Homo sapiens: one gene and its partner. The protein of the gene in region 1 interacts with the protein of each later gene in a biochemical or structural test. Each region holds a gene or a part of one and is shown on either strand. Other genes may lie near its edges. The genes, in order: ETFRF1 and ETFA.

Region 1 (7,310 bases):
TAAGTAACTCTACCCCCTTACTCCCATAGAAGACTAGAGGTTTATTTCTGGACAAAGTAATACTAGTCCCTGGACTGGGGCATCCTCAGGCATTCTAGAGAAGCACACTGGAAACAAAGTTAAGTGAATTTAGGAATACATAATGCTGGATGCAGGGCCCGCATTCCTCTTATCCTTAGAAGACTGGAAGACTCAACTCTGAGGAACTGACCAGCCCAGGAGGAGCAATCCAAGATAGTGACATCAGAGGTTCCCCAGTAAAGGCCCACCCAGAGCACCCTAAGTGAAGCCCAGAGTCTATATGCTTCACCCACGTATACAGATCTAAAAAGCTTTTTTGTCTTTTCATTCATAAGAGTAGACAGAAAAGAATGACCAGACTTTGGAAGAAAGCTCAGAAGTGATAGAGACAGAAGCAAGCAGAAAAGCAATTTGAAGTAAAACAGCTCAGAAGTGATAAGAGACAAAAGCAAGCAGAAAAGCAATTTGAAGTAAAACAACAGAAAATTTCAAGAAAGCAAGAATCAGTGAACTTGGAAAGAAAAAATGCCTACATAATATGCTTGTTATGTGAATTAGCTCATTAACTAGTAGTAAGTACAATTTAACAAGTATTAATGTAGAAGTATTTTTTTCCCTAGGAAAGAGGAGCCAGAAAAGCAGTAAATGTATGACCTTCAGTTAAGAAAAGGTCATGGCTTCACTGCTATGCTGGCGGCAAGTGTCTTTCAGATTTTTTCATTGATTCAAGTGTATATTCCAGGGTTCCTTCCCCAGAGAGGCATACCCCAAGTTCTGTGTAGCCATCGACTGAGGACAGGTAGAGTCACCTATCCTACCCACGAATTGGCAGCCTTGTGGTTTAGATGGATTTCTACTTCCATGTGTTATTTCAGCATCTCTTAGCTCTGTTCTTAGACTTTGGCTGGCATTTCTATTATTTTTTTAAGTTTTGCTGAAGTAGAATTGACACTGAATTACACTTACAAAGTATAATTCGATAAATTTGGTTCATATATATACACATCTATATATGCATATTTATAGATATATATGTGCTATAATATATACTACATATAGTATAATATATAGTATACATATTTTTGTTTCCATAGAAACAAAAATAAAAGGAATTACTATGTACTATATACTATATATATCTACTATATACTACGTAGTATGTACTACATAGTACATATAGTACATATAGTACATACTGTACTATGTAGTATATAGTAATATATATAGTACATAACTATATATGTACTACATAGTACATACTATGTAGTATATGGTAGATATATATACCATAGTATACTATATACTAAAAATGGCTGGCTACCTCTGTTTGTCAATATATATTTTAATATATTTTTGCAAGTAATAGAAATGCCAGCAAAAGTCTAAGAACAGGGCTAAGTGGTGGGAAAACTACATACTATATACTATATAGTATCTATACTAATTATATAGATTTGTATATATACATATATGTATACATACACACACACACACACACACACACACACAATGAAGCCATCACCACAATCAAGACAATAAATATATCCACTATCCACAAAGGTTGCCTTGTGCATCTTTGATTCCTTCCTGGTCTCCAGCCCCTACTCCCATTCCCAGGCTACTCTATTATAATTTTTGAGTATTTTTAACATCTCTATAGTAGTCTCCAGCTATGCTGAGAGCAATCTGAGTGGTCAAAATTAACTGTCCAGGAAGAGCAGAAATGAACAACTCAGTAGAACACTTGGAAGAAGAAAATGAGAAAATCCCCCATACAACTAAATAAAAGGCTGGGCGCAGAGGCACACACCTGTTATCCCAGCACTTTGGGAAACCAAGGAGAGTGGATCACCTCAGGTCAGGAGTTCGAGACCAGCCTGGCCAACATGGTGAAAAGCCATCTCTACTAAAAATACATAAATTAGCCATGCTTAGTGGCAGGCACCTGTAATTCCAGCTACTTGGGAGGCTGAGGCAGGAGAATCACTTGAACCCAGGAGGCGGAGGTTGCAATGAGTTGAGATCAGGCCATTGCTCTCCAGCGTGGGTGATAAGAGCGAAACTCCATGCTTAAAAAAAAAAGACAAATGGAAAATAGTACAGAAAAAAGGAAGAGAACATGTTTAGAAGTTCAAACATCCAAATAATAAAAGTTCCAGGAAGGGAGAAAAAAGAAAATGGAGGAGGGAGGAAATCATGAATGAAATCATTTAAAATTTTTTCCCAAATTGAAGGAAACAAGTGTCCAGATTGCAAGGGCCAACTGAGTGTCCAGTACAATGGATAAAAATAAATCCATTATCAACACATCACTAACATTTCAAAATCTTCATGGAGAAGATTCTGTAAGTTTCTGGGGAGAGAGAGAAAAAATACATCACATACAGAGGATCACTTACCAGGACTGCTTTGAACTTAATAGCAATGGTAAAAGCAAACAGACGAGCAACTACTTCAAAATGTTGAAAAGAAAATTATTTCCAGCTTTCAATTCTATACTCAGACAAGCTATCAAACAGATAGAGGGAGCCAGCCATTTTTAGACATCCAGGGTCTCATTTACCTTCCATGTACCCTTTTCAAGAAGTTAGGATGTGCTCCACAGAAACAAAAATAAAACCAGGAAATGGAACACTTTGGAATGTAGAAAATGGGATAATCAACATAGAGGATAGGCAAGAGGAATTTCTGGGAGCATGGTCAAGTAGGATTCCAGCACCACAGTTGTGCTTCTTGATGTAGAGAGCAGTCAGTCCAGAATCAAGCAGCATGACTCACATTGATGGCTATTATCACTAAGATCCCTGCTGCCATTGTATCATCTTTTTAATCTGAGGACATTATGCCCAGGCAAGCCTGGCTCAGATTCTTACCGGTATTTGCCTTGTCTTGACCATGTGGTGATGAAATTCCTGCTCTCTTCTGTGCTGTGCTGACTGGACCAACTGAGGACACTCATTTTTACCCTTCTTTTTCAACCTATTCCTGAAAGCTGATGTTGGGCGTTGGTGAGCTTAAAGCAGAAAATAGCCTTCCTCCTTCCCATTTTTGCTATGTATTGGCCAGAAATCAGGTATCAATTCTACACTTTGATCTTTCCACATGCTTCAGTTGTGAGGAGCCCAGTATTCACTCATGACATTGCAAATTAACTTCTCTAGAAGGGATCCAGAAAGCCTGGAGAAGGTAAAGCCAGACTAGGGCTGTTTGGCTTTAATTAACAGCAGCATTGTTGCCCTTTTCCTTGCTAGATTCGTGCTTGCTGCTCAAATTGCCAAAATTAAATATTTAGGGCAATGTTCATGAGTGCTGGGAAAACTAAAGAGAATAAGCAGGAAGTCATTAGAGGCTATCTTGGTAGAGATGGGGAAGGAGAAGCAATTGGAGAGGGGCACATGGGGGCTTCTAAGACTTTTGTTTCATAACTTGAATGATGGGTACCCAGATGTATATTTTACTTTAATTTGTACATTCATATTTTATGCAGTTTCTATGTCTAATACGTATAAAAATTTCAGATTAAATGAAATACATGAAGGCACTGGCACCCTGCCTTTCAAATTGTAAAAGGTGTAAATTTTGCAAAATGCCTAAAGGGGCAGGTGAGGTCACAATGAGAATCTACACTATTGTACTTCGGGGTTCAACCCAAACAGAAGTTAACAGGAGAACTTAAATTATGTAGCGCATGATTTTTAATTGAGTATGGTACTGTAATTTTAATCCACATTTTCTGCTAGTTAACTATAAAATAACCCTTAAAACTGATCTAAAAGCCTATTTTAAAAATATAAGTTGCGGCCGGGCACGGTGGCTCACGCCTGTAATCCCAGCACTTTGGGAGGCCAAGGTGGGTGGATCACAAGGTGAGGAGATCAAGACCATCCCGGCCAACATGGTGAAACCCCGTCTCTACTGAAATACAAAAAAAAAAAAAAAAAAAATTAGCCAGGCGTGGTGGCGCGCACACGTAGTCCCAGCTTACTGGGGAGACTGAGGCAGGGGAATTGCTTGAACCAGGGAGGTGGAGGTTGCAGTGAGCTGAGATGGCACCACTGCACTCCAGCTTGGGGACAGAGCAAGAATCCATCTCAAAAAAAAAAAAGTTGCTTCCTGCTTGCCTATCAGAGTAATTCAGTCCAAAAGTCATTACGTGGGGCTGAGCAAGGCAGGCATCTGGGGAAGGTGGGGGCGAGAGAAAGGCTGGCAAGGTAGTAGCCCAGCAGGGGATACTGGAGCCCAAATGCAGTGAGGAGGGCCTCTGGGGGTAGGGACTTGTGCACAGCAGCAGCCTAGCAGGGGATGAGGAGGGCATCCTATTAGGGTGAAGGAAATGGTGGCACAGGTTTTTGGAATGGGAACAAAAGGTGAGCCTTACCCAGGAGGGAGGAAATGGTGCAGTGTAAGTTGCTTGAGCCCAAGAAGGGTAGGTTGGGGGAAAGGGGGAAGAGAAGACCATGCATGTGGGATGGTGGCAGTGGCACTCTGGCATTAGGTGGCAGAGCTCAGAGAGTAGAGTGTGTGCGCCGAATGGTGACAGCAAGAGGATTTTGATTACATAGTGAGAGAAGGGGTGATGATTATAAAAAGTAAATTTATTAAGGACAAGTGGGAACCAGACTTCTCACTGTTCAGCAAGAGTATTAAACCCATGTAAAGAGGGGAAATGAAAATAAACCCTGTAGTATTGGAATTGAATGTTAGGTAGCAGATTATATGGAGATTAATATAAAAGTCATACACACATACAACACCTAAATCCGTATGTATATACACTTGCAGCTTTGTCACTTAGAGGACCTGGGAACAGTGACAGTCCCATGGTGATTAGCATTTTTAGCACCCAGACCTTGGTTTCTAAAGCATTCCATCCAGATTATAGTTTCTAAATGCTATTCTCCATTAAAAGGACTAGGTTCCTTGGAGAAATAATTTTACAATGGACAATCTTAGCAAATACATTAATTGGGTAATCAAAGTTATCAATCACAATGGAACAAATTGCAGTTGCATCCACCTGATAGGATGCAATGTTAAGAGCTTACTATTCAACTCTAACAGGTAGTGGGAATTATTTTCTAGGTTTAGACTGTCATGATGCCTTTAAGTTTGGAGCCTCCTCTACAAAGTAGAGTTAACACATTACACATAAAGAAGCATGATTTTGCCTGTTCCTCAGGGACACCCTCTTACAGGTTGTTCATTTGGCCTCTTCACCACCAATCTTACTGCCCATCTACTATTCCAACCTGCTTAACTCACCCAGTTTCTGCTAGTTTTCAGCCTCCCTTTGGATAAGCACCCATCAGCATTTGATCAGGCTTCTGCTCAATGTCCTTCAAGTGGCTCTGGCCTTGCCTTGAGAGCAGGGTAAAGATAATCTCTTGTTTGTTGATAAGGAAAACTCAGGCTCAGCAAGGTTAATTAATCTGTACATTATGCAACTGGAATTTAAATCTAGTTTAACTCATTCCACTGTGGCATAAAAGGAGGTACACGTACCTATCTGTGATGACAATCCACTTTCTCATTTCCTTCATGTGACTTCTCACAATCACAATTGTCTTTGCTTATGTCTCCCATAGGAAAACGTCAATTATGACAGCAGGTAATTTTATCGGAAGTGTTTATAACTATATCCCAGTACGTGGAACGAAAAAGTTATCAAGAAATATTTATTGAATGTAAAAAAGGTTACCATTTTCTCAATGTGTATAACCTTTTTTTATTTTTTTAAGACTACAATGCAGCTAATTGCAAAAAAATTTTCCTTTCTTTAGGTATGTTATGCATAAAAGTGGATAATTTACATGATAAATGAAAATGGCCAATTCTTTAAGAGGAGAAGTACTAAAACTTTATAAAAATGTAAGTAATTATGTTGCCAATTTTATAAAAATGTTATTATATGACATGGATTGTTTAGAAATATATAATCTTTCTTTTTGAAGCTGCTGTATCTTGGACGAGACTATCCAAAAGGAGCAGACTATTTTAAAAAGCGTTTGAAGAACATTTTCCTTAAAAACAAAGATGTGAAGAATCCAGAGAAGATCAAAGAACTTATTGCACAGGGCGAATTTGTAATGAAAGAGCTAGAAGCTTTGTACTTCCTTAGGAAATACAGAGCTATGAAACAACGCTATTATTCAGATACCAACAAAACTAATTGATCATTACTACTTTAATTTAGCTATCAGTGCCAGCTGTTTATGTATACCAGATGTTGTAAAATAATTCTAACTTAAAATGGGAAGATATACATGTTGTGTAAAAAATCCCTGAGCTGCCCTACTGAACTAAATAGGTTTCAACTTCTGTTCATACGGAGAAAGTATCAGCAACTTTATGCTCAATTTTGATACAAACATAGCAATTTAGCTATACTACCGATCATAAATTAATGAGCACCCAATTTTGAATGAAAATATAATACACTTAATCCTCTAACTTAATAGGACTTAGCCAATTATTTTTAGCTTATTTCTCCATTTTACTGACAAGAGAATGCCATTTACCGAACATTTAATAAGCAAAATAATTTCTTACACACTTACTTCTCTTAACTTTTGAAAGGAATCCCTTATTTTTTCACCCAATTTGGTATATTAACAGCACATACTCAAGGTTCACTACAAAACAAACAGTTCCTGGTAATGATTTAAATGTAGTTATAGAAATAAATAATATGTATGGAGTCATTACTTCTGACCTTGAAATAGCCTGCTGGTGACTGGCATTAACATACATAACTAACTATTCAATTATTTCCATTATTAATGTTGCTGCTGCTACCTTTGGGCCTAAAACCAAGTCACCTGTTGTGTATCAATTACCTTCTTTGATAAAAGGAAATAAATAAATAATGTTATCCTATTTTTTTGTCATAAAGGCAGATTTGTTTTGCATCTACTTCTAAATATGGTTTTAAGTTTAAGCAAACACGCCTTTACATAATATCCACAGCACCTTTTAGAAATAAAGGATACTTCTAACAAGCTGCATAAAAGATTCACTGGTATACTATAGTGTCTATGGCTTATAAAGTATTCCATATCCATTTCGGGGCAAACAGTTCAAATTTCATGAATAAATACACACTCATAGTCACTGTAACTATTTTTATTACATTACAATAATTAGGAGTAGTACAGTTCATGACAAAAATATTACAAATTTTAGATCACTTCACAGCACATACTCCTATAAACATTTAAAAGTTAATTTCAATTAAAAGAGTGGTCATTTTTAATGTTTGATATGACCAACATTCCTAGGTCAGCGCAACC
Region 2 (2,927 bases), on another chromosome or scaffold:
CAGCTTCCCCATCTGTAAAAGAGGGATAATAATAGCATCTAACTTACAGGGTGCTGTGAGAACTGAAGGGGTTTAATATGTATAAAGTGCTAGAACAGTGCCTGGTATATAGTAAGCATTATACTTAATGCTATGATGATGATGAGCTGTAAATACTAGTCCAGTGAACAGCTGCTTGGGGCTGAGGCAGGGCAGCCATGACAGGAGGGAGCAAAGGGAGAAAGACCAACCAGTTCAACTCTGAGCCGAGGCACCACCTGGGATGTCCCTCCCTGAGCCAGCACACCTTCTACTGGGGGTGCCTCTGTGGCCATCACCTTTGCCATCTCTCCTGTCCCCCAGTTATAGCATCCAACAGGGATGAGGGGTAAATGGAAAAAATCTTGAGCAAGGTTAGCCCTCTTAGGAAGAACCTCACAGATAAAAACAAGACATAGGAATTACTCTCCCAAAGGTGATTCAAGCCATGTGGCCTTGGCCAAGTCACTTTACCTTCTTCACTTCTCTGTGCTTCAGTATGCCCATCTATACAACAAGGGGTCTGACCAGATAATCACCGGGCTCAGACATTCTAGGATTCTTCTATTCTAACAGACATTACTTGCAAAGAGGCATCATTCTACTGCTCTCCTCTCATCTCATTAAAAGAAGACTGAAATGCCAAAGATACAACTTTTAAAAGTGTTTTATAGCAACTGATTGTGACACAAATCAGAAAGGGTTCACTAGTCAGCTGGGGAAGGGCCCCAGGCTGGTCACACAAAGGCACTCTAGCCACCTCCATCACTTATCACTTCCCTTCTCTTCCCTACTGTCTGCTTGATCCAGGTCACTACTCCTACTTCTGCAGATCTGATTCAGGAGGGCAGCCCTCTTTGTTCTACTCACCTACCTACCCACGCCTTCCTGCAGGCCTGTTCAAAGCCTCACCAGCCTCTGCTCTTGGGCCTGCATCCACACCAGCTGCAGCCCTGGTGACACTCTTGGACCTCAGCTGTGCCCTGGGCAGCAGAATGAGAGTGCCAGAGGTGACTACACAGGCCTGGGTGCTTCCTAAGAGAGCCCAAAAGAAGCCAACAGAAGGCAAAAGAAAGGCTAGAGCATTCTCTGCACAGGATTTTGAATGTTTATAATAACATCAAACTATCTGCTTGCATCAGAGGCCATGCTGTCTCAAAGCAGCCCCTCCTCCACTCTCCCTCCTTTACAGACAAAAGTCCTATAAACTGACAAAACCTTAAAATTAAACGGAAAATGAAATTTACCTTAAGCCAACTAAATACATGGAGCTGGGTCAGGTTTAAGTCAGGTCTGCTTTTGTCACATTAGCTATGGTCTTCTGAAGACTGGAGTATGTTTAAGATAATATTCATGCTTTATAGCCGTGCTTTTTTAACTCTGCACTTGCCAATTCAGTTACCTTCTCCTATGAAGTTTGCCCTTCAACAATGAGATTAGTAGGTTGATTAGGCTGGTGGAGACAATCATGTTTACAATCTTCCTAAAACATAGAGCTCTCCATGAACAAGAAAGGCAAAAAAATAAATAAATAAACAAAATTTTTACTCCTTTTCTTCAATTTTCTCTAGAGGCTAGGCATATTTCTGATAGTTTTAAAGCTGTGGAAAAGCTTTATTATAGATTTTAGTACAGAATTTAAAAAGTTCAAACAATAATTGTTTGGAACCACAAATAATTAAAAGGAAACACAGCAATCCCATAAACAAGCATTCTGGCATCTGTTAGAAATTTTCCCTCAAATTATGAAATGTAGCTCTCCATGCTTTCCAATGATTGTTATAATACCCACAAATATCTGTGATTTCAGTGGAATACTTTAACAAAAGTTTTCTTTTTAAGGCATGATCCTGATTCATTTTTTCTTCAATATCTCAGTCATTTCAGGAACTACCTGCAAATAAAAACAAAAAGTAATTAAGCAACTAGAGCCTTCACTGTGATATGGTCACAGCTCCGTAAGCATTACAGGGAGGCCAAAAGAAACAACACAAATCACTGTTGAGGCACGAGGGCCCCCTCCTCTCCACCAGGAACCCCCTGTTCTCCGGTAGTCTCTCTTCCCACCCAGGGCGACTACCCAGGACCCAGGGCTGACAGGGCTTACAGCCCACTCATTGCCTAGGTGCCTTTTGCCTTTTTTTTTTTTTTTTTTTTTTTGAGACAGGCTCTCACTCTGTCACCCAGGCTGCAGTGCAGTGGTACAATTATGGCTCACTGCAGCATCTACCTCCTGGGGTCAATCACTCCTCCCACCTCAGCCTCCCAAGTAGCCACCAACCTGTCTAATTCTTGTAGAGATGGGGTATCGTCATGTTGCCCAGGCTAGTCTCGAACTCCTGGGCTCAAGTGATCTGCCTGCCTCAGCCTCCCAAAGTGTTGAGATTACAGGCGTGAACCACTGCACACACTGCTACCTTTTGGCTTTGTGACCCAACCACAAATTTCAAGAAGGCACCCTAGAAACAGGAAGCCCAATTTTTCTTGTCTGGGTGAAGAGTACTGTGTATTTACCTTCATGTTTTGCTTGGCATTCTTCCCACCCTTAACTGCATTCCTGACTTTCCTTCCAAGTCCACACCAAAGTCTCTAGCTTACTGCAATTATGACTCCTGCCAACCTCCTTTATACTTGTTCTCTCACTGTTCGTTCATTCATTCATTGTTCATTTCACAAACATATTGGTTGCTTTTTCAGCAGCATGCTACTATCATCTGGCACACAGAAATGTGCTACATGCTGAACATTCAATATCATCACTCTTTATTAAAATCAAGACCTTGTGTGCTAATGCAGTGGCCGGTCAGCAGACACAGTAAGAAACCACAGCAAGGGGAAATGGCCTGAGTTGGCTCCCATTTTAAAAAGGATTAATTACTAACCCTTAGTCGTGGCAGTGCAGTGGCTGC

What was found.
Region 2: the proteins of ETFRF1 (region 1) and ETFA form a complex in vitro, tested with the Homo sapiens proteins (one study listed by BioGRID).

What each region holds. Positions count from the first base shown.
Region 1 is NC_000012.12:25,198,119-25,205,428, forward strand, and holds the end of ETFRF1 (electron transfer flavoprotein regulatory factor 1), read left to right. Parts: exon of another isoform or gene 1-5,714; intron 5,715-5,801; 5' UTR 5,802-5,838; coding exon 5,839-5,889; intron 5,890-5,972; coding exon 5,973-6,194; 3' UTR 6,195-7,025; downstream 7,026-7,310. UniProt on the Homo sapiens protein: Acts as a regulator of the electron transfer flavoprotein by promoting the removal of flavin from the ETF holoenzyme (composed of ETFA and ETFB).
Region 2 is NC_000015.10:76,214,686-76,217,612, forward strand, and holds the end of ETFA (electron transfer flavoprotein subunit alpha, mitochondrial), read right to left. Parts: intron 1,913-2,927; coding exon 1,874-1,912; 3' UTR 668-1,873; downstream 1-667. UniProt on the Homo sapiens protein: Heterodimeric electron transfer flavoprotein that accepts electrons from several mitochondrial dehydrogenases, including acyl-CoA dehydrogenases, glutaryl-CoA and sarcosine dehydrogenase.